Homo sapiens: one gene and its partners. The protein of the gene in region 1 interacts with the protein of each later gene in a pairwise test. Each region holds a gene or a part of one and is shown on either strand. Other genes may lie near its edges.

Region 1 (7,100 bases):
CAAAGGGTGAGATCTTTGCCCAAAATTATATTGCAATTTACTGGTAGAGACAGGATTAGAACCTGAATCTCTTACTTCTCTATCATCCTGTCTCTCTCTTCGGTTAATTTACTCCATTCTTTTACCACAGATTTCAAAACTGAAATGAAGAAATTCATACTGTTAGTTCCAAAGCATCCAAGTCACATAGAGGCAGCATTTGAGTTGCACAATTGCCTTGAAAGTATTGAGAAAAGATAAGTATGAGCACATTACATTGACACAACTTCAGGGGTGAGGCAAACCATCCATTTTATTTAGAGGGTCAACTGCCTATCCTTTGCATATGAGTCTAAACCTTACAGCATATAAATCTTTTCAATTGACAGTTTAAAGATTAGATTTACTACAGATGTACACAAAGCAGTCAATGTATGTAACTCCTGTGACTCTCATTTTAAGTCATTGGACAAAATAATTTCACTGAAGGGATGCCGTGGAAGGAAACCTTCCTCAACCAGAGTACCGAAAAGAAGGCTCACATTGTCAGAATTCTGAGTTTAAATCCCAGTTCCTCACCAACTTAGAACTATACAACTTAGAGCTGCATGAGACTTCTGGAATAACCTAGTTCAATAAAATTTAGACCCAGTGGCCGGGCGCAGTGGCTCACGCCTGTAATCCCAGCACTTAGGAAGGCCCAGGGGGGGTGGATCACGAGATCAAGAGATCGAGACCATCCTGGCCAACATGGTGAAACCCCATCTCTACTAAATATACAAAAAATTAGCCAGGCATGGTGGCAGGCGCCTGTAGTCCCAGTTACTCGGGAGGCTGAGGCAGGAGAATGGCATGAACCCGGGAGGCGGAGCTTGCAGTGAGCCGAGATCGTGCCACTGCACTCCAGCCTGGGCGACAGAGTGAGACTCCGTCGCAAAAAAAAAAAAAAAAAAATTTAGACCCGGAAATTATACAATTTACAAACTTACAGAATTCAAATCTTAATGCTATGCTGTTTTGTAAGCACTGCACTTATTTCCTGTATGACTGTGCCTTCTTTGTTTAATTGGTTCTCAGAACACAGCATCAGATATTTCTACGTAGCATTTAATACAACTTCACCAACATTCAAGGTAAATATCTCCTTTATTAAATATGAGGAGGTGGGGAGTGACATAAATGTTGTCTTAAAAGTCTACTATTAATCATAATGAATGCCTAGCAAAAATAGATTTAAAGGACTTACAGATAAACAAAATGTAGAGAAATATTGATGACTTCTAACTAGCTGGTAGGAAAAGGTGGTCAAGTTTGAAATGCATCCACTATTTTGAGCTGTACTGCAAGAGAGATTCTGACAGTAAGAGAACTCTTAGTAGTAACTGATAGGGAATGACCTTGAAAGTCAAAGAAACCACTTCCAATCAGCTGAATTTCAAGACTCCGGCAGATCAACAGGGCAAAAGCAACCAAAATTACAGCAGATGTCATTGAGAGTGGCAGAACCTCTGGCACTTCAGATAATCCCAAACTGAGCGAGCTCATGCAATTCCAGGTGGCTGAATGCCTCCCATGGACAAATCACTGTGATATCTGCAAGAGATGGAAGAAGAGCACGTAAGCCAACCTCACCCCAAGAGAGCTTCTTCACAGAAAGACACCCTTCAGGCAGAGACACTTCACTCCTCTCTCCTGCTCATTGTCCCCTGACTGGGAAGTTCCCTAGCGTGGCCCTGTGGCCCAGGAAGGATCAGACCAATTGCTTAATTGTTGCACCAGGCATCTCTGTTGGTTTCATTCTGCTTCCTCTTTGGGGAGGTGATCCACAGCTGTTGACTGGGGGGTTCCCTGTGGGGTACAGCCCACTGATTACACAGAGTCTCCCCAAACCACAACCACTAAGGAGGAGGCAGAAGTGGAATTCTAGTCAGGCCAAGGGTTAAAATGAAAAAGAGGAGCACTTTGAATCTCCCTGGTCTAGGTATCCATAGTCTTCCCTACCAATCTAGATCGGTTTCTTCTCTAATTGTTCTTCTATTCCTTTACATTTTGAATTGCCTATATCCAATCACATATTGAGAAACGATCACAAAGCATCTTTTAATCCAGCTTCTTGTTTTAGACAATAAGATGTTATTATCCCTGAGTTACAAAGAAGCTTGCTGACACACAGAAAGATGAAATAATTAGCAAAAACCACATAGTTGTAGAGCTGAGACTAGAGCCAGGTCAAAGACCTCAGACCTTCACTCCCTATAAACCTCTTTACATTATTCCAAATACACTGTCAGAGTCAAGCATATCTTCCAGATCCCAAAGCAAATTTGCTGGTCTTGTATGCACCTTGCCAAAATACGGAAGCAGTTGATCTAAAAGAATAGAAAATTTGCTTTATAACATGGCTGGAAAATTCATTCAAGATCCCAGGATTGGTATTTGCCTGCAGAAAGAGACACTGAGGATTGCCTGGGAAGGACACTGATTACTACAAGTGCTACTGTTTATCAAAGGTGTGTTGGATGAGTTGAAAATATGTCCACACAAAAGCCTGCACATAAATATTTAGGGGCATTTTATTCATTATTGGCAAAACTTGGAAGAAACCAAGGTATCTTTCAATAGGATAAAAAACTGTGTATATCCCTACAATGGAGTATCATTCCGTGATTTTAAAAAATGAGCTATCAAGCCACATAAAAACATGGAGAAACCTTAAATGAATATGGTTAAATGAAAGAAGCTAGTCCAGAAAAGCTGTATACTGTATGAGTCTAACTATATGACATTCTGGAAAAGGCAAAACTATAGAGACAGTAAGAACATTAGTGGATGTCTGGGGTTTAGAGAGAGAGAGAAGGATGACCGGGTGGAGCATAGGGCAGCGAAACTATTCTGTATGATACTATATGTACTGCAATATGTACTATAATGGTGGGTACATGGTATTTATCAAAACCCTTAGAACTTTACAACACAAGGGATAAAAACTCTAATTCAAGCTATGGAGTTTAATTAACATACTGCATCGACATTGGCTCATCAAATATAATCACACTAATACAAGATGTTAATAATAGAGGAAACTGTGTAAAAGGGGAGAGAGATGGTAGAGAGGACATATAGGAACTCTACTTTCTGCTGAACTTTTCTGTAAGTCTTAAACTCCTCTAAGAAATAAAGTCTATTAATTTAAAAAATATGCAGTGATTGCATTCATTGTATGATACATAAAAATCTGGTAACCAATTTTTAAAATTATATTGCAGGCATTCAGTATGTAAGATCCTCCTCTGGGTGCTAGAGGATGTGTAAAAAGAGGAAATTGGTAAGGAAGTGGTTTGCCAGGTAGAGTGGAGAGATCTCCAGACCTCACCCTTATTTCCAATAGTTCACTTGGTAGCCTCAGACAAAAGACTGCCAATTCCTGTATGTCTCAGATTTCTCCCTTGAAAAATGAAGTTTGGGGAGATGAATTATGAAAATCTTTCTACCATAAAAGTCTATAATTTATCATTGTATGCCCTCAAAGGTTGTTTGACAAAACAAGAAGGTTTATGAAATTTTGGGCCTACCCTGATTTCTTTTAGGGCTTTTGTATCTGGGCACACATGTACTTATTTCGAGGGTAAATTAAATCCCCACATTTCTATGTCTTCACAGATCTTCTGCCTTGGGTATTTCTCATAACTTTCAACTGCCCCTTGAGGCCTGAAGTATATAAAAAGGCAGAACTCCAAGTGCGAAGTTCTCACTTAAATCAGTGGATGGCTTACCTGTTCCTAGCCCCTCCATTCCTGGAATGTCATCTCCAAATCTATGGAAAAGAATAAAGGAGAAATTAGCTGAGATTAGAGCAAAAGAATTTTGGAGTCACTCACATGGAGAGTTTCTTGATTCAAGGGGGAAGAAGGAGAGGTTTAAGTGTTTGTATGTGAGAAACTCCTTTAGTTTGCCCTGAACTGGAGCAAAGAAAATGTCACTCAGGCAGGTTTTGGTGTATCCCACTGGAGAGATATTTCTCTCCTGTAGGAACTTAACCTAAAACAATTAAGAGTCAGAAAGAACCATCAGTGGGACAACTTAGTCAAGTTTCACTTTTTATAATAAAAATTGAAATGAGAAAGCAATACAAAAGGCATTAAAAATGATGAATTCATCCATTTGTTTACTTATTCAAAATCATTAACTAAGCATCTATTATATACCAGGCATTTTATTAAGCACAGAGAGTTAAGAAGAAAACAGACAAATTTTCTGAGTGGTCTTAGCCTCGGAGAATAGATACAAATAAATAAATATAAGATATAATGTAAGTTATGATAGCTGAATGTACAAAATGCAAACATGAAAGTAATGATAGTTTGTTAAAGAGAGTCAGGAGTAGCTTCAAAAAGAAATTAGCATATGATCTGTGTGTTGAAAAATCAATAGGATTTTGCCAAGGAGAGGAAGAGGAAAATAAAGAACTGAGGATACAAAATTGGAAGACATAAATATAAGCTATATTTTCTGGAAATGGTCAGTGGTTCAGTGTTACAGATTAACGTAGAGGTTGTCTCAGTAAAGAGGAGTGGTCATCAAAAGCCTGCAAGGCAAAGTCAAAGTTTATTGTAAAAAGCCTCTATTTGCCATGTTAAATTCGGCCACAGACCTGGAAGTTGAGAAGGAAAGAATTCCAGGGATAAAGACACAATTCATCAAAGATGGAGTTACAGAGGAAAAGAGAGGATGGAGTGGAAATTTTTGTAAGTCTGTTTAATATTGTGAGCACCAATTTCCCAAAACAAAAGCAGTCTTGTGGGAAAAAGAAAGTAATAGAAAGTTTTTCTTTTCATTTTGGTCTTACCCTTTCACACCTTTCTTTGGAGGTTTACTCTTGAATTGGCGAGTCTGCCTCTGCTTGAACTTGGGAGGGCCTTTGCGTGGGGTGGTAGGACCCTGGTTTGAAGCTGGAGCAGGCAGAGTAGTGTTGTCACTCATTTTAACTCCCCCCGGGCGGCTGATGTTTCCCTTTCAGCCTCCTTAGACAGTGAAAGATAAAAAAAAGAAGATCTTTCAAGTCATGGGGACCATTGGTTATTAGATCTTTATTTCAGGCTGGAGAAGAAAAGTACTTCAACAAGAAAGCTCAGTATTTTGTGTTGACACAAAAGGGGAGAAGTTATCATCTTTAAAAGGGATCTTTAAGAAAACAGAGTATAAATCAATGCAGGCACTTAATGGAATGGAATGGAAACTTACCTTCTGCTACATTACTTACACAATCTATCAGTTGTGTAAACGGACAATTGATAGATTTTAAAACTCAGAAATCTAGGTAGCTATGCTGTTCCCATGGATCTGCCACTGAAAACAATTTTTAAATAAATAAATTAAATTAAAGCTTCACATTAGGTATAACAAATTAAAATTTAAAAATAAATAAATAAAATAGATTTGCCACAAGCATTCTACGTGAATTTATTATGATGCTGTACTTCTCTGTGACTACCAGTTCTGTCAGTTACGAAGAGAGGAAAATGGACTCAGTGATATCTATAGTCTTTTACAGCATCTGCAATTTCTTTAAGCTTTACATATTCTTCCATCCAGCTGTAAAATAACCTGACTCTAAATGTTTATTGAGCATTTTTTATGGCCTCTGTTTTTTTATAGTCCTTCATGTCCTTATAGTTTAAGATAGGATTATTTTGTTTAATCCTCACATGAACCAGAAACTTCTCTCTTAGTTCTGGGAGATGACAGTGTAGTTGTCTGGACAGGAGGACCTCTGAAGCAGGAATACCAACACCCATGAATATATTCAACACATCTTAATACACACGCACATACAGAAGTTAATGAAGGATAATTAAGTAATACGTTTGTGCTTCAACTCTACGTCGAGACATAAGGTTCTTCAGCCCCCACTTTTCACAAATCTTCAATGCCTTCTTCTATCCACACCACGGACCTATCCAATATGGTGTTCTCAGACTTTAATTTGGCTACAGAAATGCACATTGCCATTCTTCAAATACAAATCAAAGAAAATTATTGAAAAAGATAAATTTAAGCAATTAATGTGTCATTTTGGATGACGTTATTTTCTTTCTTCCTTTCTTTCGTAAGAGTTAACAAAACTTGCTCTTGGAAGGAAGATCCTGAAAAGCCCCAGAGAACTCCAAATTGCTTTTGCCTCTTACCCTGAGACAGTCTCCTCTATAAAAACTAGTGTGTGGGGGCTTTGTCTCCATAAGATTCCTTATTTCACCCATTGCAGATTTATGCTAATATTCTTTTTTCTTTTTTTTTAAGAGAGACAAGTTCTTGCTCCATCAGCCAGGCTGTAGTGCAGTGGTGCAATTGCAATCATAGCTCACTACAGCCTCAAACTCCTGGGCTCAAGTGACCCTCCCGCCTCAGCCTCCCGAAGTGCTAGGTTTACAGGCATGACCCATCACACCAGCCTATGCTAATACTGTTAACTGCAAACCTCCCTGACAGTCTTTGGCTCGTGCTAACAATGACTCTCTTTACTGGCCACACTGCATATTCCTGAAACCTCATATTCTATAACTTCCAGTCCATACTGTTTTCTTATTTCCTTGACAATTGGGTTGCAATTATTATCCTCGCCTCCAAGATTTTTCTCTTATTTAAATTCTGATTATTACTAAATTATTACCCTTGCCAGTACCAGGGATGGTGAGATTGGCCAGGACCCTGGACCACCTGCTCATGCTGTGATTCCTTCCTTTATCCCCTACTGGACTAGCTTCATGAGGCTGTCCTTCCAGTCTCAGAACCTACAACAGTGCATGGTGTACAGTAATCATGCCATATATATTATATTTGTCAAATGAGTTAATAAATTAATTTAGAAATTGAACAGGCCAGGCACGGTGGCTCACGCCTGTAATCCCAGCACTTTGGGAGGCCGAGGCGGGCGGATCACGAGGTCAGGAGATCAAGACCATCCTGGCTAACACGGTGAAACCCCATCTCTACTAAAAATACAAAAGATTAGCCAGGTGTGGTGGCGGGCACCTGTAGTCCCAGCTACTTGGGAGGCTGAGGCAGGAGAATGGTGTGAACCCAGGAGGTGGAGTTTGCAGTGAGCTGAGATTGTGCCACTGCAC
Region 2 (7,776 bases), on another chromosome or scaffold:
AATGTGCCCCGCCTCAGCAGCTCCGCAAACACCTATTAAATCTGAAGGCGATGATGACTGCCTCTGTTATTACAGCAAAAAAAAAAAAAGAACTTTGTAGGACAAATCAGAAACCAAACTGTTTTCTGAAAAACAAAAAAAACATTTATTTCTGTAAACTGTCTGAGTGCAGAGATGTTCTTTACAATCCCAATACAGTACAGATTTCTTCCCCAAAACGAAATGAGCAAGGAAAAACAGAAAAAGAGCTATATCAAATGTGCTCATGAAGAACCAAGCCAATCTCACCTTTCTTTAAAAACAAAACAAAACGATCCTTTTGAATGTGTGGTGCAGACGCAGGACTGAAGCCACAGGCTTTTGGGGTGCTGTGAGCCCAGGGCTTTGCTCAGCTCACAGCTAGCGCGGCGGGCAGAGCAACCCTTCGGCCCAAGCCATCCTCGCAGCTTACACAGAAGCTTCCTGAACCTAAGGGATCCGTTCCCAGCTCTCCTTAAATTCCCAGTCCCCACCCTGGGCCTCTCTCCCTAACGATCTTGTCGCTTTGGGAGCCCCTGAAGTGAACCCTGAAATACTCCCTCCGTCAACTCTGGGCTCAGACCTTTGCCCTTCTCTGTGTCACAAGGAAATTTCGGTCAAGAGGGTGGGAACAGGTGGTTTCAGACCGTGCAGCAAAGCCACTGCCAGGTAAGTTTTAAGGCAAATTTTATCTCTTCTTATTCAGTCTGAGCCGGACCTAACCTTCTCACCACCGAGCAATCCTGCCTATGCTGGACATGCATCTTAGGCAACTCCGGATGGAGGTGGGATGAGGGAGCCCGGGGCAGATACCAGGAGGTCTGGGCCTTAGTAGGGAATGGACGTGTGTGCTTATGAAGGCTGCAGGCACCGGGCACAGCTCCTGGCCCAGCTGCCCCTCAGTGGTACACAGGAAGCAGGGTCCAGGAAAACTGAGATGGCAAAATAGGCCCGGGCTCTGGAAAGCAACGTGAGGTCATGCAGATCTCACTAGGCAGACCTCGTCGCGTGGAAGAGAAATGCCAGGAAAAGGGGTCACTGCAGGAGGCACCTCGGATCTGATGGCAGGCAGGACCTTGCATCAAAATGACTTTTCTTTAGAACAAAAAAGAGGGGGAGAAAAGAAAAAGAAGATCAAAGAAAGAGGTTCCATGAGCGTCATGAGATAGGACACGGCAGGGTTCTAAGGGAAGCGGGAAGGTGGGGGCTGTGGACACAGGGTGGCGGGCGCTGCCTCTCATGGCTTCTTTTCTCCCTGGTGGGCTGGTGGGCTAGTAGCTGAGGCCGGCGGTCCTCTCCCCCGGGGAGCAGGCAGATGACTTTGGCAAGGGGTGGTGTGGCGGGGGCTGGGGTTACTCCGTCTGGGCGTCGTAATTGGCTCCCCCCGCCTTCTTCAGCTCGCTCTTGATGAAATCTTCCTCCAGCTCCTTCCGATCACTGATCACAAACTCCTTAGCGAAATTCTGCAAGAACAAAGGAAAACACAGCGTTCCTATTAAGAAGGAAGGCACAGGATGTGAGGGTGGCTCAGGCAACACACTGGGAAGCAAAGCACTGAAAACCCTGATGAGAGATGGAAATGGAAATTCAGCAGCAGAGTCAGTCAATGGAAATTCAGCAGCAGAGTCAATGGAAATTGAACAGCAGAGTCATCTGGCAGAAAAAACCTGACTGGGAGGAGGGAGTGGGGCAGATCTGATGCTGCGTCTTCCCATGTCCGTGGGGATGGCCCGAGGAAGCTGGGGCTTGAATTTGGGCTGTTACCTTGGCCAAGTCCCTTCAATTCTCTGTGCCTCAACTTTCTCATCTGTAAAAAACTATCTCGTCAGGAAAATAATAGGTTACGAGGTTGGAAAGGCTCACGGGTGTGCAGGCACTCCAAAAAAAAGAAAAGGACAAAAGCTCAGATTGGTGTCTTTTGCCCATATCCATGATGTAAATAGTCCCCCAGTGGCTGACGTCAAGCTATCAAAGTGATGTCACCATACGTGGAGGTGGAAGGAGACAGGCGTAATTGGCTCTCGCCAGCTGGGACAAGCAAGCTTCAGCCACCAATGTTCCTAATGACGCAGGAGCCTCCAGTCCTGGGTCTGCCATGGGCTCTCCACCCGCACTGAGTTACACGAGGGTAGAGGCTCTGCCTTCTTTCAACAAATACCACGCCAGGCTGTGGGGCTACAGGGCTCAGCAAAATGGATGCAGTCAGTCTTTCCTCTTGCAGTACACAGGTTTCACCCATAGAACCCGCAGGCACCCATGATGCACTCAGTAAACGCTTGTGGCATGAATGAGGGAACCAGGTGACCTGGCTTATCAGACACCCTTAAGCCATGATGATACACAGTTACTGCCATATGTGGATCATAAGACTTTAACAAACAAAATTTCAGAACGATGACGGACAGCTTGACAAAAAAAAGCTATCAAAACCACAAATAACACGTCTAAAGGTAAGAAAATCATCCACATTAAAAAAAAAAGCCCATAAGGAAATAACATAAACAATGACCACCATTTTTCTTTTTCTTGAGAGAAAAGCCTGTTGCCCAGGCTGGAGTGCAGTGGCGCAATCTTGGCTCACAGCAACCTCTGCCCCCAGGGTTCAAGCCATTCTCATGTCTCAGCCTCCCAAGTAGCTCGAACTACAGGCGTCTGCCACCACACCCAGCTATTTTTTGTATTTTTAGTAGAAGCAGGGTTTCGCCACATTGGCCAGGCTGGTCTCAAACTCCTGGCCTTAAGTGATCCGCCCAGCTTGGCCTCCCAAGGTGTTGGCACTACAGGCGTGAGCCACCACGCCCGGCTAACCACAATTATTAAGCACTTATGTGTACCAGCACAGTGCCACAGTACTGAGAATGACACACAGTAGTAAATATGAATCATGGAAGGTGGAAGCAACCCCTATGTCCATCAACAGAGGAGTGGATTATCAAAACACGGTCCGTCCACACAATGGAATATTCCTCAGCCACAGAGAGGAATGAAGCGCTGCCACACGCAACTACATGGATGAACCTCGGAAACAGGATGCTGAGTGAAAGAAGCCAGGCATGAAGACCATGTACTGTCAGCTGCCATTGGTATAAATGTCTAAAAAAGGCAAACCCATACAGACAGAAAGCAGACTCGTGGTTACACAGAGCTGGAGATGGGAACAGGAAATGATAGAGACGTTCTAAAATTGGGATTGTGGTAATGGGTGCACAACTCCACAAATTCACGAAAAAGTACTGAAAAAGTACACTTAGGATGACTTGATTTTGAGGTACATACATCATACCTCAATCAAGTTCTTTTTAAAAAGGCCCGTAAGGTGATCAACATTATTTCCATTTTAAAGGTGAGGAAACAAAGGCTGGAAATTACAATGCTTGTCCGAAGTCAGACAACCAGAAGGTCCAGTTGATGCCAAAGCTGGCGTCTTGAAAGAGCCACCATCTCCTTTTGGGGTGATGAAAAAGTTTTGGAACCAGACAGAGGTAGGGCTTGCACAACACTGTGAATGTTCTGAAAGCCACTGAATTGTACACTTTAAAATGGTTCAGGCCAGGTGCGGTGGCTCACGCCCGTCATCCCAGCACTTTGGAGGCCGAGGCAGGCAGATCACCTGAGGTCAGGAGTTCGAGACCAGCCTGGCCAACATGGCGGAACCCCATCTCTACTAAAACTACAAAAATCAGCCGGGCGTGGTGGCGGGCGCCTGCAATCCCAGCTACTGGGGAGGCTGAGGCAGGAGAATCGCTTGAACCCGGGAGGCGGACGTTGCAGTGAGCCAAGATCGCGCCACTGCACTCCAGCCTGGGCGACAGGGTGAGATCTGTCTCAAAATAAATAAATAAACATAAAAAGGTTCATTTTATGTTAAATGAATTCCACCACAATTAAAAAATAAAAAACAAAAAAGTCGCCATATTGCCAAGAATGATGAGCCCAGGAGCATCCCGAAGTCAAGCTTTACAATAAAAAGACAATGCATTTGGCGCGCAAAGCCACTGAGAACACTAACAAAGTGGAGAACGGGAGGTTAATTTTTATCAAGCAGCTGATGTGTGCCAGGAACAGCCTCACTCATGTTCTCGTTCAGCCCTCAGTATATTAACTTTATTTTATTTTACTTTTTGAAGATAAGACTCATGGGCTGGGCTTGGAGAGATTTGCCCAGAATGACAGAACACCCTTGAGATCCTTTCTGTTCCCACCCCACTACAGTGTGTTACTAAGTGTATGTGATCCGTGCAATGAAAGAACACAAGTTGGATGTAAGAGCCAGAAAGGAGAATTGAGAATTAATGTATTTCTCAACCCTGAGCCCCACGGCATGAGGGAGGGGCAGAGAGCTTTCAGAAGGAGGAAGCCAACAGCTTAAGATGCTTATAGAAGAAAAGTCCAAAGTTCCTCTGCTTTGTGATAGCTATATATGGCAATCTACAGAAATAAGAACACTTGAAGTTCCAGTCGGTTAGCTATTAGAAGATTTAGATTAAGAAAAATAAGTTTGAGAGCCATGGATGGTGGCTCATGCCTGTAATCCCAGCACTTTGGGAGGCTGAGGAGAGCAGATCATGAGGTCAGGAGATCGAGACCAGCCTGGCCAACACGGTGAAAACCCTAATCTACTAAAAATATAAAAATCAGCTGGGTGTAGTGGCGCGAGCCTGTAATCCCAGCTACTCAGGAGGCTAAGGCAGGAGAATGGCTTGAACCTGGGAGGCAGAAATGGCAGTGAGCCAAGATGGCGCCACTGCACTCCAGCCTGGCAACAGAGCGAGATTCCATCTCAAAAAAAGAAAAATAAGTTTGATAAGGTCTAAGAAATCTCAAATGAAAGATACATGGAGCTAGGCACAGGTCAACCTAAAACCACAAGTACTTAGGAAATCAAATTATAATGAAACAAAAACAAGCAAAACAGACAGCAGATCTAGTAAAACATAACAATAAATGTAAATGAACAAAATTATCTTTAAAAATGCTATGTTTCAAACTACAAAAAAAAAACCCTCAAACCTTGTACTACATACCAGAGACATATTTAAAATCAAAAGATTAGCAGAAAAATGATTCCAAGTTATACAAACAAAAGTATATACAAAAGCAACCATATGATCTCTGAAAACATTTAAAGCAAACTGAGTCTCACAAGATAAACAGGGTCATCCTGCAACTTGATAACCCTCCTGGCTCAGCTGATGTTCTTTCCTCTCTGCTCGGTAGAAAATAGAATGGAAGGTTATTTTCCCTGTTGAAGGGCTGTTTTTATCATCAGTACTTAGAGAGGTCTTAAAAGACAAGTCGTCCAGCAATCCGATTACTGCCAAAAAGCAAAGGGTTAGAAAGCAAGTGTCTTAACACACTGAACTGGCTCATACCTAAAAGTCCTGTATTCCTATTTCGTTTCCAATTTATCCTCAGGGGAACACAGAGAGAATGTGCAAAATTGAGTCTTCCCTCATTCCTGCTTTTTTTTTTTTTCCTTTTTTGCCTCTTCCAATGACCAAGAAAGACAAAACTTTAAACATTTCTGAAGATACAGTGACCATGGCCATGCTCTAGGCCCCTTTAGAACAGACCCCAGATTCTCTGTTCGGAAGAATCCTGACATACTGCCTCCAGGGGTGGGCTGAAGACCTTGTATTCAGACATGAGCCTGTTGGCTCCCTTCACCTTCAGTCTGGCTGACAGCTGGTGCATTTGGCTCTGCTCCCGTCCTCACACGAGAGCCCCCGCCGCGTGACTGCCAAGGTGTACAGCCTGGGACTCGATGCAGCCCACGCCAGTGCAAAGCCGAGCAGAGAGAAGGGATGGACGGAGGACACTGGAGGTCCGGGCTCCCTCTGGGCCTTAGTATCACCATGGCCTCATAGACAGCAGGGTTGGTGGTCCTTAGAGGTCATCTCTTGCCCCTCAATTCAGAAGGGGAAACTGAGGCTCGGCGAGTGACACCATGAGGCTGGTTAAGCGGCAGTCATGCCCCAGCCCACTGCTCTCCACCCTTGCACCTGGGTCCGCTCATCTCTCCCCCCTGCCCATCAGCTTCCCTCCCCTCTTTGTGTCTCCTCCTCGTGCTGCTCCTGTGTCTTGTCCACCCCTTCCCCGTTCTTTGAGCCTGGCAGTGACTCCTAGCACCTTCCAAATAAAGTGTCTACATCTCCATCCAATCATCCCCCTGGGATCGGCTCCCCGCTGTCACCTCACCGGCAGACTGGTCATGCACGGGCCCATTGCCTGGACGTCACGTGGACACATGGGTGAGACGGTGAGACGGGCCTGTGACCAACAGTGGTCAGTTCCCTTGCAGCCAGAGCTGGACCCCAGCCTGCTCCTGAGTGGACACCGAGCCGCTCCCACCTTCTATAGGGCCAGCAGCAACTCTGCAGGGGCCCAGGTGGTCAGGCCGCATGGAGGGGGTACTAGCAGGCCTCCATCCTACACGGGGTGCTCCCAAGCCCCCAGAGGCTTACAAAGGTGAGCCAGCACCTTCCATTCAGGGCGTGGACTCCACAGAATGTCCCCAAAATGTCTAACCTGAGCCTCAGCCTAAAAACCAACTGACAACAACCTCCACACCTCTCCACCTCCACGCCTTCCAGCGGCTCCCATGAGATAAGGGAGTTGCAAGCACCACTGGGGAGTGGGCTTCATTGCATGTTTTCAAAACGAGGCAGAAGCTGAGCAAAACAGCTCTGGGCAGACAGACTCTGACTTGGGAGCAATGCCTGAAACTGGAGGGAGCCTGCGTGGAGCAGCTGAAGTCTGCCTTGCACCTGAGGCTGGAAACCAGAGGGAACATATGCATGCAAAGCGTGGCCACCCCTACACCACACACACCTCAAGACACAGCACTTGCCAGCACCCACATGCCACCAACACCCACGGGGGCAGGGGCAGGTGGCAAGACTCAGGAGGCAAGTCCTTCATCAGAAGGAGACTTCCAGGGCCTAGAGCAATGCGGACACACACAGAATGTTAATTTCTCTTTTTTTGAAACACAGTCTCACTCTGTCACCCAAGCTGGCGTGCAGTGGTGCGATCTCGGCTCACTGCAGGCTCAACCTCCTAGGTTCAAGCGATCCTCCCACCTCCGCCTTCCTAATAGCTAGAAATACAGGCACAAGCCACCACGTCCAGCTGATTTTTGTATTTTTCTGTAGAGACGTGGTTTCGTCATGTTGCCCAGGCTGGTCTCCAACTCCTGGGCTCAAGCGATCCACCCATCTTGGCCTCCCAAAGGCCAGAATTTTGAATTTTCTTTCTTTCCTTTTTTTTCTTAGACAGGTCTCACTCTGTCACCCACGCTGCCAGGCTGGAGGGCACTGGTGCAATCTCAGCTCACTGCAACCTCCACCGCCTGTGCTCAAGCAATCCTACCACCTCAGCCACCGAAGTAGCCGGGACTACAGGTACACACCACCATGCCCGACTAATTTTTTTTTTTTTGGTAGATAATGGGGTTTTACCATGTTGCCCAGGCTGGTCTCAAACTCCTGAGATGAAGTGATCCACTGACCTCGGCCTCCCAAAGTGCTAGAATTACAGGCGTGAGCCACTTTGCCTGGCCGGGAATTTTCAATTTGCTACTAGCCACATTGAAAAATGTAAGAAAGAAACCAGTGCCATTTATTTTAATAGTATTTTATCTAATCCAATATATGCAAAATATTGTCATTTCCACAATGTAATCAATGCTAAAAGGTACTGACGAGGTCCTTTACATTCATTTCTTTTGAACCCAGCCTTAGAAACGCTGTGTGCCCT
Region 3 (7,776 bases), on another chromosome or scaffold:
TCTTTTGCCTCAGACTCCAATATGGCTCAATACTGTTACTGATCCTGCATTTAAAAATTTGAAATTTTGTTGTTCATAGACTTTTGGCGTTCATTTTGATTTTTGAAAATATTTCATTCAAACATTATCTGAATTTTTGAGTACACCCTTAAATTCTGCATCTGAGATGAGTGCTTCCAAGCCTCACCATCATCTCAGTCCTGGCTAGGAGAATTCTGCGTAGTGATTTAGCCCTGTGTAGGTAGAGAGATGTCTGAGTTCTATATTTACAGTAGCCACACAAAGGAGTTATATGAATACACCCACAGAGTCACCCAACTCTACACAGTTTTAGGGGTTTGTAACATAAAACTCCAATGGAACTGAAGGAGTTCTAGAAAGTATTTAATTTTACCCCCTCCCTTTTATAGATGAAAAAACAAACCTAGTCCCACAGAGCCTTGAGTAATATTGTGGTAAACCGATTAAGACTAATTGCTGGGGGGGGAGGGGGTTTGGCCTAGGACACTGGGTCTTTTCCATAGGGCAGACCCATGATTGGAGACCATTTGCTTTAGAGAACTTGAAAGTCCCGTAGGTCTAGCTCCTTCCCAAGGCTTTGGGCTCTTTATTTTAAAAAGTGATAATGTACCACCTTCTCCCATTATGTATGCACTTTGGAACTTAGTACTAAGTTTGCCAGTGGGAAAATATCTCAAATGGGAAGACCAGAAGGCAATGCCCACTGCGCAACAGAGGTGGGATTCCGATGCAGTTTTACTCTGCTGTGCCTGAGTGGTAACTAGACCTTTCCATTAGCAAATGCACATGGTTGAGAATACATTTCACGCTCTCAAGCAACTTCACCTCCGAGGAGGTGACCGTGCCCCTCATTCCTCATATAAGCACAGATAGTTTTCACTGTCCAATTCCTACTGATCTCTCTCTCCCTCTGTTATTTATTAAAATGTGCAATAGAACAAGAAAAGGAAAAGATTATCCTGCGTCCTGCCATGCAAGATGGTACGTGGGAGGCCAAGGTTAAATGCAGCATTTGGTTTCTTAAGCTTCTCTAATGTATAGGTGTGGAAAAGCAATCTGGGACCAGAGCTTATAGCAGTGACTCTCTGAGGATAAAAACTTGACTTTAATTTGGACTCTCTGGCTAAGATAAAATCTGCTTCTGCTATCATTATCCCACTTATGTTTGTCCTCCACTCTCTTTTCACTCTGCCACCCAGCTGAGTGGGAAGAAATTAACCTGACCTTGAAGAATACTCAGAGAATCTTCAGGACCATCAAGTTTTCAATAGCCAATAAAATTCCAGAGGCCTACTAACATTGAGATTATAGATTCATAGGCCTGAAAAAGACCTCAGACCACACGGATGAGGGAAATGAAGTCCAGAGAGCTAAAGTGACCTATCCAAAGTTATGAGTTAGTTGGAGGCAGGGTCAGAACTAGAAGGGGGACTCAAGCCCTCCGGTTACCCTCTTCCACCTACACCATGACTGGGCTCCAACCATGCCCAGCATATCTCCAGACCACTCAAGAGGGAATATGTGCACAATAGGGCTTTTATAAGATGTCTGAAATTTTACCAGTGCAAATAAAAACTCCCAAGGAGTTTTCTTTTCAAGAAAATTCTTCTTAAAGGTCATAGAAAGGAGGCTTTTATTTCACCATTCTTATGCTTATGGGGTCTCTATCCAGATTAAAATTACGTATTGAATTTTTTTTTTTTTTTTACCTAGATCATGTTTTTTGCCCCAAAAGATTGCTTCCATTTATGTTTCTGCTTCTATCAAACACAGTCTATATTTTTAGTTTTAGATTCAGGCACAGCCTGTGGACTGTGGGTTTGAGCAAAAATAAGGAGTATGGACTGCTCTCCATCCTGGCACCCAAGGACTAAATTCAGCTCACAGTGCATCTTGTTTGTCCCACACACTGTTTTTATAAATTTGATTTTGGGTTCTACAACCAAGATTACTTTACTTATTTACAGGGACTGCTAGGCCCTGAAGACCTCTGCCCTTGCATTTCCTGTCTAGAACTTCTCTCCTCAAGCCTCCTGGGCAAGAACGAAGCCATGGGTGGGTGGGTCCTGAGTCTCAATGGAGAATCTATAGACAGATCTCCAGGGGCAGCTTCTAGAGTCTGCTTTAGACCACCAGACCTCCTATAATGCTGAGTGATCAAAATTAATAAACAAAGTGATCCCCCTACCTGTGCGTCTCTGAAAGGATAATACTTTAGACTCCTATCTATCTTAAAACAACTTGGTTTTGTAAATGTAATCCTTTTCACAGAATTCAGTAAAAGAGTAAAATAAAATTACACTGCAATATTGCAGAAAAGCCTGATACGAGGTATTTGGATAATTTTTGTTTAGAGTGTTACTACCTACCAACACTATTAATTTTTTTTCATCTCAGGAAATGACCTCACCCAAATATAACACACAACCTACTTACATTTATTTTTTTCTAAAGATATGGGAGCATCTGCACAGTTTTAGAAATAATTGTTGTCCTCCAAAGTTTTGTTTTTAAAGCAAAAAACCTAATTGACTGGCTTTCCCTGGTAATCTACATTGCATAGTTCTAAACTAATATCTCTCCAGCAGATTTTTGAATAATGTAAAAAGATAAAGCCCACATGAAAATAAAGGGTTGTAAAATAAAATTTAGGCTATCATACATGAATTTAGTTGATCTTTATTCCCTTAATAATCTTCAAACAAAAACACTTTATAAAGATCATTAGTTTGGAGAGTTAAATATCTTTGCAATTCCTTTTAAACAGTTTTCTTTTTAAAAAGTTCAAACATTCCATGTTCCACAAACTCAAAAAGCCTGCAGCTAGTGTAAAAATTTTTTTTAAACCAAAATATTCTCTATTTCCTTTATACATGCCTGTAGTAAAGGAAAAAAGTCCTTTTATGCCTACCGACACAGATTTGTTTAACATCTTCTCAGTAATGTTTTAAAAAAAATTTGTAGCAAGTCACTCATTTGGTGGTCATCTGTTAGATCCACAGAAGTTAGAGTAACAGCTCCTCTATATTTAAATGTACTCTAAACATATTTATTAAGTTTATAAGTTAAAACTTCAAAAATGAAAAATTAGAATATTCTCTCAGTGTTACAAAGAAAGAAATGTAGCTCTGAGCCTTCATTTGTTGCAAAACCAAAACAAAACAAACAGCCCTGGGATTTCCACGAGAAACTGTTAGGAGAACTTTCGGAAATTCCCCTAAGTTTATTTTCATGAGGCTGCGTGGTCACTTCATCTAAAGTCCTGTCAACAGTCATTCAACAGGGCTTGTCTTCACTGGGATCTCACTGGCCAACAGAAATTTATAAAACACTGACAGTGTTCAGGGAAGGCTGAGGTCCACAGAGCTCAAAACTTTCACCTAACAGGAAGGAATACTGGACTATATCGGACAACTGGGGACACACCTAAGTAATTTCACTCCTCAAGGAAGGGCAATATTTTTCTTTGGTAATTTTACCTATTTTGGTGCCTGGAATAGAGAAATTAGATGGTATATAGGTACATCTAATGTAAGTGTTCTTAAAAAGCATTAAATTAATTTTTTGGAATAATAAAGTTGAATCCCAAATGCTGCCAACATTAAGGTTGCTGTAATCATGCCTTCTGTAAATTTGATGACACCTGCTCTTTCAGTAGGTGTCAAGTGGACAATGAAGACGTTTTTGGACCATGTTCATTTTAGTCCTAGGTCAAAGGTGTTACGTTGTCTCACCATCGTAAGAATTGTATAAATACATCTTGAAACTCCACTCATGAAAATGTTCAAATTGAAAGTAGCCCTGGCCCAAGAGCCCAGAAAAACACAATGACTCATCTCTCCCAAATGTGTTCATTTCTAGGAATGCTTTGGGCCACACCACTGAGAATCCAAATTGGAAGAGACAAAGCTATGGGACAACAAACTAAGTTCTAAAATACCAAGTCTCTAATCCACCTGCCTTTCTGTCCGTGTACCAACCTGTCTTTATTTTGTATACTTTTCTATTTAGGAGCCAAGGATACCATCGCTACTGTCATTCTCAGGCTGGGGAGAGCCGGACTGACTGAGGTTTATACCCACCACTATGGCAAGGGGATGAGATGGCACTTGAAACAGGTCCACAGGCTGCTCACTCTGTTTAACTTTGTCACAGTACTACAAATACACGAGATTGTCTGAAATCTCACAGGGAAAAATGTCATTGTGCAAGTCAAAGAATGGATGGCTTGGCTGAGTTATTAATTTCTGGATCTGATATGATGACATCACAGTCATTATGTTTTGAAGCTAATTTATTTTAAAGACACCTAAGTTAAAAATGGTTTTCTGAAGTTTAAAGTCATATATATATATATATATATATGAATGCACCTATCCATTCCTTCTCAATAGGTAGGTTATAGATGAGCTCTCATGGTTAGCCTGAAATATCTATTTATGAAGCTCTCAGCCTCACAGTAATAAAGTAAACCTATAGAAGTTTTATTCCTTTATAAAGATGCATATTGGTTGAGGCTCTTGGCATGAATTTAGAGTACTTGTTAGTCTGTGGAGTAATGGTTGGAATCTGGGACATAAGACTGGGGCTAAATTTCTTTGCCCTCCTAACCCCAGAGAGTCTTTAGAAAAATAGAAACAAAAGAGCACAAAGTACTTAAGGTGAGACACTGTTGTATTCATAATATAGAGAAATAACCACCATGCCTCATGGACAGTAGATGCAGTTCTCCATGGGGCTACAAAACTGTGCTAGTAATAATTTTAATTGGATGCTATCTTTGCTGCCTTCAAAAAGTATCATAAAATGGAATTATTACAGGCTCCAAATGCACTTATAGTGCTGGCCTCTCACAGAAGGAAACAGATAACATTTATCCTTTGGAGGGCAACAGAAATGGGCTTCTATTTGTTTCGTTTACATGCATCCCCAGTTGCCTTCTAGTTGCTTCTTCTTCCCTATGTCTAAGAGATCAATTTGAATTAGATGCTGCAGAACTGGATGCTAAGTTTTGTGTGGTCCCTCTGCCTTTGGGGATGGCACCACCCCATGGAAAGGTCCTTGGTGCTCCTAGGGGCAGACGGGAAGCACGGGGAGCATACCTGTAGAGGATTGGGTGGCGTGAGCGGTGAAGGCAGGCCATGTCCTGGAGACTGACTAGGTTTCTGCGGGGGGCTGGAGCTCTGCTGGGTTGGAGATGGTTGGTTCTGGTTCTGGGAGTGGGAGTGGGGTTGGTGCTGCTGGGGCTGAGGCGCCTGTTGCAGCTGAGATGTAGGAGCTGGCGGCTGCTGAGAGGCGGGTGGTGGCTGCTGGGGTGGGGTGGGCTGCAGCGGCTGCTGCTGGGACTGCGAGGGCGCCTGTGGGGCTGGTTGCGGGTGCTGGTTGGTTGACGGGGGAGGCTGCTGCTGCTGCTGCTGCTGCTGCTGCTGGAGCTGGAGCTGGAGCTGCTGGAGCTGGGAGTTCAGGGATGAGGTAGCTACAAGGAGAGAAAGCGAATGTGGAGTGAGATAACATGACAAAGTGTCTTGCTGGGTCTTGACAGCCTGTCCAGTGCAAGTGGAGAAGGGTTTCCTTTAGAAAATTCTTGTCCTTGCCCCCTGAAGCTCTTTGGTATTTAAGAGTGTTGTGAGGCACTGGGAGAACAAAGGTCACTTCTGGGGAAAGTTTAGAATTTCTGGAGGACCAGCATATAACACATCAGGCATTACTTTAAAAGGTGGTGAACAATGCAAGCCAAAGGTGTGTGGTAGGAATGGAGATTGTTTTTTAACTACTTTCTCTCTCTCTTCCTTTCCATACTGCATGGGAAATACATTCATGCTTCAAGATTTCATTTAGATTGTTGAAGTCCAACCAGTTTAGTTGTTTTGGTAAGTGTTTGACTGGAGTTAAGAACAAAAAACCAATTGTTTGCAATTGCCTTTACATCCATCATCAATATCATTAATGGTATCATTTTCACTTGCTACTTCAGATCTCCACCCAGTTGCTTAGATGTCTTAGTGTCAAATTTCTAACTGTTTTTTTTTTTTTTTAAAAATTCAAAAGCAGTACATGCTTCTCCATTTTGCAGGGTCAAAAGCCTGAGTCTGAATTTTTTGCCTGCTGATTAAAGAGACAGAACCCCTAAACTGGAGGGATGATAGCAGGTGACTGAACCAAACAGTGTGGTGATTAGACATCAGCACCTGAGGACAGGACAGCACCTAAGGACTGAGGGAATGAAATCATCTTTTAAGATCTTGTTATGAGAAAGGTAGAGTTGGTGGGAGAAAGTGTCTTAGCACTGAGCACGCAAAATTTGTTCTCACATGCCCATGTAGCACTGAACAATTTCTGCAGAAGGAAGCTGGTTAGTTTGACCTAAGAATGGTCTAGAGAAATTTACGGCTAAAAACCAAGTTCACTTTCTTTTTTGCCTAAATCTCAATCTAAAAGCTTTCTAACAAGCCCATGAACAAATAAACATATAAGGATCAATGTCAAACCCACAGGCCTTAGAGGAAAGTGTAGCTGTATTGGTGAAATGACGATGCAACCATTTCCAGGGGTATCAAATACCAATTCTGTGATCTCACATACCATGTAGGGCTTCCAACTTGGTCCAGTTGGGATAGCAAGTCCTCACTGAGCCACTGAACTGCTCTAGGTCTATGCAAGCAGTCCAGTGTGTGGCCTGCCTTGCGTGTAGAGCCAGGGTGTTCTGGGGCTTGTGATGTAATCGTAGAGATAGAGATGGCATGAGGGAGGCCTGGAAAGTACCCCGGCATCATCCCGTTTATTAGACCTTTTAGAGAAAGGCCTGCTTTTGCCATTTCCCCCTTTCTTCTAGTTTACAAAATCACATTTTATCAAAGATGTGGGAGCCCTGCTCTATTCTGACCTCCCTAGATCTTCTGCAGTCTGGAGGATCCTGGGGCAGGGGAGCCTGATCTCTTCTTCTGGTGGAGTTCCAGACTTCAGGGACTTGATTGCATCTGGCCTCCTGCCTGATTCAAATCGAACCTAACCTGATGTCTTTCAGGTGGGGGCACATATGTTAATGCTTATTTCCATGGTTGACTTAAATACCATACTGCTTCATTTTGGTTAGAAAAGCATTTATCTAAATCAGCATTTAGAAACAGGAAAGTCTGGGAATATTGGCAGATAGATGTTGGCAGACGGGTAGGTACAGCAGACCCTAACCTACTAATGAGCCTTGGTCCCAAATATGTCTCCCTTCCTCCATATCCGTAAGTTCATATTGCTTGGGTATTTGTTTTCCATAACAGCAGCTTGACTGGAAAGGCATAAACCTAAGCCTTTGAGTTACATAGACTAATTTGACATCTGCAAGCAAAAAATAATACAGAATTAAATATGTTCAGGTATACACCAGATGCAAAGGAAAGCAGGAGGGGCATATATGAACGTAACTTGGGTCTGAAAAACACCAAAGCCACCTACACACTAACATGAAAATGAGAGTTAAAAAATGTGAAAATATAGTGCATCGAAGTGGCTCATTGTGTAAAGCATAGTGAAATATGACAGAGAAGAATGAGAAAATAAGATGAGTACAGTTAGGAAGGTTCAAGGATGTATTAATATTTGAACTACAAAGAATGTTTGCAGATAAAATGATGCTTGTTGGGGTAAAATTCTGACCCTAAGCAGGGAAGGTTAAAGACTTTACTTTCTTCCCTGGTATTTATTCCCTTTTATGATGGTTTCCTCTCTGTCTTGTTACTATACACGACATAGGCCAATGTT
Region 4 (7,776 bases), on another chromosome or scaffold:
TGAGACGGCCAAACCCCTCGGCCCTGCTATGCTCTCACCATCTGTCATTTACCCTGTCTGTCACTTCATTCCTCTTATGGGCCAAATTGTGTCGTTCCAAAATTCCTGTGTTGAAGTCCTAACTCCCAGAAGCTCAGAATGTAACTGTATTTGGAGATGGGACCTTTAAAGAGACAATTAAGTTACACTAGGCCATTTGGGTGAAGCCTAATCCCATATGACTGGTCACCTTATAAGAAGAGATTAGGATGCAGATACGCACAGAGGCAAGACCACATGAAGACACACAGAGAAGGTGGCATCGACAAGCCAAGGAGAGAGGTGTCAGGAGAAACCCACCTGCTAAACTGTAAGATAGCAGGTGTCTGTTGTTGAAGCCTCCCAGTCTGTGGTACTTTGTTACGGCTGCCTGAGCAGACTTGAACCTGCTGAGCAGACTTGAACACACTTCCTTACTCAGCTCAGATTCCAGCATGACCGTTCTTGGCCACACCTTCACCGTCCCTACCAGTTACACTCACCAACTCTGGCTGAACCTGAGGAGCTGAGCGTTGGTGGGGAAGATCACATAACAATGTTAATTAGCCTCTCCTAAAATGTATCACTTTGAACCTTCATATATGAGCTCAACACAGTCCATAAATCTTATCAAGTTTTTCAAGTCTTCTTTCCCACTTTCCAGGAGGCTATTTCACACAGTCGATTTCATCTTCAACATCCAACTGCCCGCCTCTTATCTCAAGGTTGTGATCTGAGACCAGGAGGTACCAGTTGGGAGCCTCTGCATGCTCCTACCTCTGCTGCCTCAGGCCCAAGCTTTCCACTTCACCCTGTACCAACCAAAGGCCTCTTATTTTCTGAGTTCTATCTCCTTTTGCCTTTGCAAGAATTCCACCCCTCCATTCATCTCCTATCTCTTCATCAATTTCTTTTACTAAATTCCTTCCATACATTTGTCTCTCCTCCTAAAAACACCTCCCTTGACCCTCATCCTCTTTTAGCAACTCCCTCATTTTTCTGCTCCTTTTAGTGTCAAAATGTCTGAGAAAAAGTCGACCATACTCACTGGTTCAACTCACTGACTGCCTCATCGACAATTTCTTTCTGCTGTTGGATCACTTCTGTCAGTGTGCAAGCATTTGTTCTCCTGCTACTCCAGTCTGACCCTCAGTAAGCCCAGTGACAACTTCAGGGTTGCCAAGCCGGGTCCCCTGTGTCCTGTTCCTCCTCCAGCTCTCCACAGCATTCCATGTGGCTGGCCGTTCCCTCTGTCTTGAATCTTTGTGACTCTTCTGGCTTTCCTTTACTTCATGGGCTACTCTTTCTCAATCCCCTTTGCATCCTTCTCTACCTGACCTCCAGGCTCCCTGTTCTTCTGTTTCTAGATTATCTCACCCAGGTCCATGACTTTAAGGATCATTTATGCGCTGATGTCCCTCAAATTTATTGCTCTGTACTGACCTCTCCCTTGGGCTCCAAACATATATATTAAGCTTGACGTCTCCACCCAGATGACCCAAGCACCTCTAACCCAACATGTGTGGCAATGATTTCTCCATCCTGTACCCACTCCCCGACCCTGTTTCCCATCTTACTAAATGGCACTAACATCCACTCACGGCTCGGATAAAAAGCCCAGGAATTGTTCTCGCTTTCAATGGCCTTGACGTCACTGGTCTCTCCATCTTCACTCTCAACCCTGTCCCAAGCTGCCATACTCTTTCACTGGGAAACCGAAATCATTTTGTAAATGGTCTCTCTGTTTCTGTTCCATAGGCAGGGCTGCTCTGGGGAGGGGGGATCTGTGAAGGATCAGTTTCCTGTTGTGTAGATGACACAGTTGGCGCTAACTGGATTAATCGGATTACCCAAGGGGAGGCGCATGTGTCCCCTCCTTTCTGTCGCATTTCCCTCAGAAACAGCACTTCCATTCAGAAAGCCAGATCAAGTGCCATTAACAAATCAATTCTGATCTGCAGCCCAAGTGCTCAGACCTTGGGGCAATCCAGCCAGCCCTGAAGGGCGTGTCTTGGGCCTGGCCTGCTAATAAAGTGGAAACTATGCTGGAGGCAGAGGCGATTATTTTGATGCCTGTCTCTGTCCCTGAAGGGGAGAAGAGTGGGATTTGATTACACCATGGTCTCCCGAGGGAATTAACTCACTGCGGAATGCTAAGTTATTAATTCTCCAGCACGAGGTTAGGTCCGGGAGGGCAGTCAGCTCTCACACCCCTCTTTGGCTCCTGCAGCCCCCTATTTATGACAGCATTCAGGAGGTGCCCAATAATTGGATGAAAGAATAATTAATTGGTAAGTCGGGGAATAAGTCTGGGGCCTGGCATTTTTAATCACCCTTCACTCTTTTATTTAATAAATGTAACTGGGCCCAGACTGTGTTTCTCAGAAATTAAACCAAACAGACAAGGCCCCTGTCCTTCTGACCTTATAGGCAGTGGGTAGGAGGTGGGGGGAAAGGCAGATAATCAGCATTTATCAAACAAATGCAAAGTTGTCCTCAGAGAGTGAGCAACAGAGTCAAGGTAAGCGAACGGGCCACAGTGACAGAGTGTGCGGGAAGGATGCCCAAGGCAGGCCTGAGGCCGGACACCTGGGCTGAGCTCTGCGTGCGGCAAGGAGCCAGCTGGATCTGGGGGAAGACCCTTCTAGAGAGAGACCAGAAAATGCAAGTGGCTGTTAGAAAAAATAGGCCCAGTACATCCGGCTCAGGCCACCTTTGCTGGGCAGCTATTCTCCTCCTCACCCTGGGGGTAAGGTGGGTGTGTCCCTGCTGGGCCTCGGGCTTTGCCCAGGGTTGGTCTGCCTGCCTGGGTACCATCCTTCCCTCCAGCCTTTCTCACTCATGCCATGGGGCTTTGTTCCATTCCCACCTCTTCTAACAGAGCCTTTCACAATCCCACTCGGAAGGGCTCCGTCCCCTCTCTGAAGTCCTGGAGCACGTTTTTGACGCCTGTCTGAAGTGGGTCAGCACTGCATGCACCTGGATGTGAGTCTCCTCCCCATGCCCCCTCTTCCTGTTCCCATCATGGGGCTGCTCTTGGGTAGAGGCCTCAACTCCTTTGTCTCCCATACTCCCTGAGCCAAGCCCAGGGCCCTCAGTAACAGATGTGGAGAGTCTGAATAGATTGCCTGACCCAGTAAAATTCTGAGGGGTAAATAAAGACTCACAGAAGTCTTGCTTCTCATCCAGTGTCTCTAACATGGGCAAGGAAGGAGAGCATTCCATCAGCTCCTGGAATAGGACCAGCTTTGGATTTGAAAGTAGTTTCCAGAAGGGTGATGAAAAATTTTCAAGAATATTCCTGGCTTTCTTATGGGAATGCTTGGAGACTTTCATCAGAACAGTGCCACAAGATAAGGGACAGCTTGAAGATGAAGAGTCCCAGGATGGAGAGATCAGGTGAAAGAGGTGGTGAACCACTTTCCCAGAGGCAGGCTCCATCCCACACCCCCATTCAGCGACTCCCCCAGCCACTATCAGTGAGCGCCACCCACCAGGAAAACACACCTGCTCACTTGCAGCCAGCCTTCCTCCAGCTAACTCCCCCGCCCCGCCCAGTATTCTCAGACATCCCCAATTCCAGCACTAGTTAGTCCCACCAAGAAAGCCAGATACTGTCAGATGGAACACGAGGGCACAAAAGGTGGCTTCGGTGGCAAGGCACTGTGGCTGGCCGCAGGGCATGCTGTGGGCCCTGAGCTCCCACACTATGGCTGATGGGGATGAGGCCCTGGCCCAACCCTAGAGGAGGGAAAGCCAATGGGCACGAGCATGAGATGGGCATGGAGATGTGCTGGGCACTGCGGCTGACCTTTCACGAGGACCGTCCTGGCCTCGGCCCACTCGCTCCTCCCGTCAGACGTCAGCAGGCCAATTGGAGGCAAACGCTCGTCCTCGTTGGAAGCCATTTTGACTATCTTTCTCAACTGAGTGAACAGATCCCCCTCACTGAGACGGCGGAAATTAATGACAACATCCAAGACAAAGAACTGTGGGGTAAACAGGTCAAACATGTCACTTGTTGGGTGGCCCGTGGCACCAGGCCTTCACTCAGCCTTCACAGGTAAGCTTGGGGCAGGGATGCTCAGGCCCAAGGTTCCCAAGGTGTTTGGTGGTTCTAGTCTCAGTTTAGGGACCAAGCCAAGGCTGTTGACTGTGCTGGATTCCACGCTGCCCCCAATCAAAGAAGGCAACATTAAACTTAGCCAAAAGAAAATGTGTTTCATGGTTCACGGAATCCATTATGTTTGTGGGGAATGGAATATAAATTGGCACAGCTACTGTTGGAGGGCAGTGTCTATCAAAACTAAAAATGTGCATACCTATGACTAAGCAATTGCACTTATAAATGCATATTTTAGCCTGAGGCTTAGAGAAACGTACCCGTGTGTACCGGAAGACACGAGGAATGTGCCTCTCGGCCTTGTTTGCAACAGCAAAATGGTAGCAAGAGCCTCACTGTTCTCCAGAAGGGGAATGGCTAAGTGAAATGTGGTGTATATGTCTAGGGCATGTCTACCCAGCCATTGAAAAGAGTGAATTAGCAACAGATAGAGCCACAGTGATGGGCCTTAAACACACTGGTGAGTGGAGGAAAAAAAGCAAGCCAGCAATCATATGCAGAGGAAGATTAAAATGGAAAACCAACACACACCATGCGTGCATGTGCACCTACACATGTGTGCATGTGTGTGCACCTTCACATGTATACCTACATGTGCTTTGTATGTCAGCCCTGTGGTTTTGTCATTTTGTAGCTTTGAAGGCTAGAGCCTTGGGCTTTGTGAAGGGTCTATTCCTAGACCCAGGTCAAGATACACTTTTCAGCTGATTGACATGAGTACCTTGTTTTCCCTTCCCCTCCAACCCCCTAGCAGTGTCTGTATGGCCTGGTCTTGTGCAGGGGCCCAGAGCATGTCTGGAAGAGGTGGATACGGTGGCCTGTGGGAGCTGGGAAATACTTGGCTTGACTTTTGAATGAAGATGGGGAAACGTCCTTGGTCTATGGCCAAGGTGTCAGGTGGGCTGCGAGAGCTCCTAGATGGCCTTCAAATCTAGGAACAGAGGTCACAGCTGCCCTCAGATGTCAGGGCTCCACAGAGCTCCCAACTTACTAAAAATGTGAGGAGAGCCCAGGATCACATTGTAGAGCAAGTACCAGGGGAGTCCCTGGGATGGTTGCCAAACTTGGGTTTTAGCAAAGCAAAAACAAAAACAAAACTGTTTGTCAGAGGAAATATTTATGTGAAGCTCAATATATGGAATATATAGTGCAGTGGGCACAGGGAAGAGGTCAGGAGCCCTCATGCTCAGCCTGTCCCCCAGGACCCATGGGTCCTTGTTGGCTCTGTGGAACCCAGTCTGAGGACCTGAGCTGCAGGGGGTAGAGCATGACCTTAGGGCACTGGCCAGACCCAGGATTCCTTCCCACTCTTGGACAGACCACTTAACTTGTCTGAGTCTCATGTCCTCAACTGTCACACAGAGATCCTAAGGCCCCCTCTGCATGGTCACTGTGAGGATTAAGTGGGATGAATGCATGTTAAGTGCTGAGCCCACAGGCTGACACATGAAAGGTCCTATTTGTCAGTCTGTAACACTGTCTGTCTGTGTGTGGTCTCCAGAAAGGCCAGAGCCTGGGTGACTGCATGGAAAAGAACAGATGTACAGGTGGAGGTCTCGATCATGACCCTCAGTGCATCAGTGCTGAAGTGAGAGTCCAGTGAGGATATTCTCAAACTGACGGCTCTCATTCTTAGAAGGCAACTGGTGGAGAGACATGGGACTGACTGGAAGTAGGGGCCCCACTTTGGAGACATGGTGCCCCAGCTCCCTGTGTGACTCAGGGAAGGAGGCTGAGCCCCCTCGGAGAAGGTAATGGACGTGAACGCATGGCCACTGTATGCTCTGTGCCCTCCCTCACCAAGACAAGGGGTTGCTTACCTGATTGCAGCAGGCTACGATGACGTGCTCAGGCTCCGGCATGATGCTGCTGTTCTGAGCCACCAGCGTGTCCTGGGTATGGCCGGGGAGCCGGTAGGAGGAGAAGAGCCCATAGTATTGCTTCATGCAAAGGGGCTGCCCTGACAGCTGGCCTTTGGCACAGTCAGTGGGAATGGAGTGGCTGAAGGAGAGGAGTGGGAAGGGAGGCAGCCACGAGGGGATGGTGGGTGGTGAGGGGAGACAGAGAATGGGTTTTATTGTAACTTGATCAGGCAAAATGGGGCACAGAACCCAGAACTGCATCATCATGGCAGATGCAGAGCTCAATTCTCCACTTTTTAAAGTAGTGGAGGCCCCATTTCCACAACACGTGGAGACCCTCAGAGTTTTCTCAAACCTCTGCCTCATGCACGGCATGTGCAAAGCCTGCCAGTTAGCCTTCTGCATCTTTGCTTATGCTGATCTTCTCTCGGCGTGCCTTTGCCCCAACCCCAGAACTCAACTGTTCTATTCAGAAAACTCCTTCCCCTCCTTCAAGAGCCTACTCCTTTATCATCTCTTTTAGAAGCCTCTTCTGAGGTCAATGCAGGAAGTTCTTTTTCCCTCTGGTCTCAGCATGCCTTGTGCCTATCCTTCCTTTCTCCCTCCCTTTCTTCCATCCATCCACCCATCCATCTATCCATCATCCATCCATATATCCATACATCTACCATACTTCTACCACGAAACATCCATCCCTCCTTCCACCCACCACCCACTCATCTATCCACCATCCACACATCTATCCACCATCCATCTATCCTTGCATCCACCCATCCATCCACCAAGCATCCATCCATCCTTCCATCGACCCATCCATCCACCATCCACCCATCTATCCACCATCCATCCATCTTTCCATCCATCCATCCATCCATCCATCCGTCCATCCATCCTTCCTTCCTTCCACTCTTTCAGCCAACAAATATTTGTGAAGCACGTCCTCCGTATAGGCCAGGCACCATTCTGGGATGTGGGGATATGGCAGCAAATAAGACATGCAGCTCCTGCTCTACTGGGGTGTAAGTCCTAGGATGTGTAGGTAGGGAGTAGACCACAAGCAGCAAACCAGTGAACAGGAGACTGTCAGGTAGTGAGACAGAGTGTTGGCAGGGACAGGAGGTGGTGACCAGGGGCAGTCTCACTGAGGCAGGTTGATTGAGCTGAGCCCTAAGGGTGAAGTGTCCCAAAGCACTGCAACTCAAAGTATGAGTATTGCACTGAACTGCTGTGACTGACCCATGACTTGGTGTAATGCCTGAACCCAGAAATGTTTGTAGCAATGTGATGGGAGTTTTATGTCTGTTGAATCCTGTAATAAAACATTTGGTCTCATATTTCATACCGTTTTTCTAGTAATCAATTTTTTGTTGTTTTTCACAAATTTTACAAAATGAAAGAAAATATATTGGTTCTTCCCCAGAGGCAGCTTGAGAAGCACTGATCAAAGGCAGAGAGAAGCCAGTGGGGCTGAGGCCCAGTGAAGACAGGGCCAGAGAGGTGGGCAGGCCAGGTCCTGTGGGGCTCCAGTGGCAGTGGAGAGGAGCTATCGCCTTATTCTTGGTGCAGTGAAAGCCCTTGGGAGGCTTTAGCACGCAGGGGCATGACTGGGTTTCCATTTTGTTGTTTTACTGACCCTGCTTATATGGGGAGAATGGACTGAAAGGTGTCACAGGAAGAACAAGGAAGGAGGTTGTGGCAGAGAAGGAACGTGATGTCTTGTGAGGGCAGCAGGGAAGGAGGAGGGAGCTTGGGGACACAGTGGGGAGGGAGAAT

What was found.
Region 2: the proteins of PDE6H (region 1) and COTL1 interact in binary tests that used the Homo sapiens proteins (3 or more experiments, as listed by UniProt).
Region 3: the proteins of PDE6H (region 1) and POU6F2 interact in binary tests that used the Homo sapiens proteins (3 or more experiments, as listed by UniProt).
Region 4: the proteins of PDE6H (region 1) and CHAT interact in binary tests that used the Homo sapiens proteins (3 or more experiments, as listed by UniProt).

The regions. Positions count from the first base shown.
Region 1 is NC_000012.12:14,975,872-14,982,971, reverse strand, and holds the end of PDE6H (retinal cone rhodopsin-sensitive cGMP 3',5'-cyclic phosphodiesterase subunit gamma), read right to left. Parts: intron 5,001-7,100; 5' UTR 4,960-5,000; coding exon 4,826-4,959; intron 3,794-4,825; coding exon 3,753-3,793; intron 1,573-3,752; coding exon 1,496-1,572; 3' UTR 1,107-1,495; downstream 1-1,106.
Region 2 is NC_000016.10:84,565,475-84,573,250, forward strand, and holds the end of COTL1 (coactosin-like protein), read right to left. Parts: intron 1,482-7,776; coding exon 1,371-1,481; 3' UTR 122-1,370; downstream 1-121. UniProt on the Homo sapiens protein: Binds to F-actin in a calcium-independent manner. Has no direct effect on actin depolymerization. Acts as a chaperone for ALOX5 (5LO), influencing both its stability and activity in leukotrienes synthesis.
Region 3 is NC_000007.14:39,337,363-39,345,138, reverse strand, and holds part of POU6F2 (POU domain, class 6, transcription factor 2), read right to left. Parts: exon of another isoform or gene 6,019-7,776; intron 5,498-6,018; coding exon 5,124-5,497; intron 1-5,123. UniProt on the Homo sapiens protein: Probable transcription factor likely to be involved in early steps in the differentiation of amacrine and ganglion cells. Recognizes and binds to the DNA sequence 5'-ATGCAAAT-3'. Isoform 1 does not bind DNA.
Region 4 is NC_000010.11:49,623,839-49,631,614, reverse strand, and holds part of CHAT (choline O-acetyltransferase), read right to left. Parts: intron 6,143-7,776; coding exon 5,962-6,142; intron 4,008-5,961; coding exon 3,830-4,007; intron 1-3,829. UniProt on the Homo sapiens protein: Catalyzes the reversible synthesis of acetylcholine (ACh) from acetyl CoA and choline at cholinergic synapses.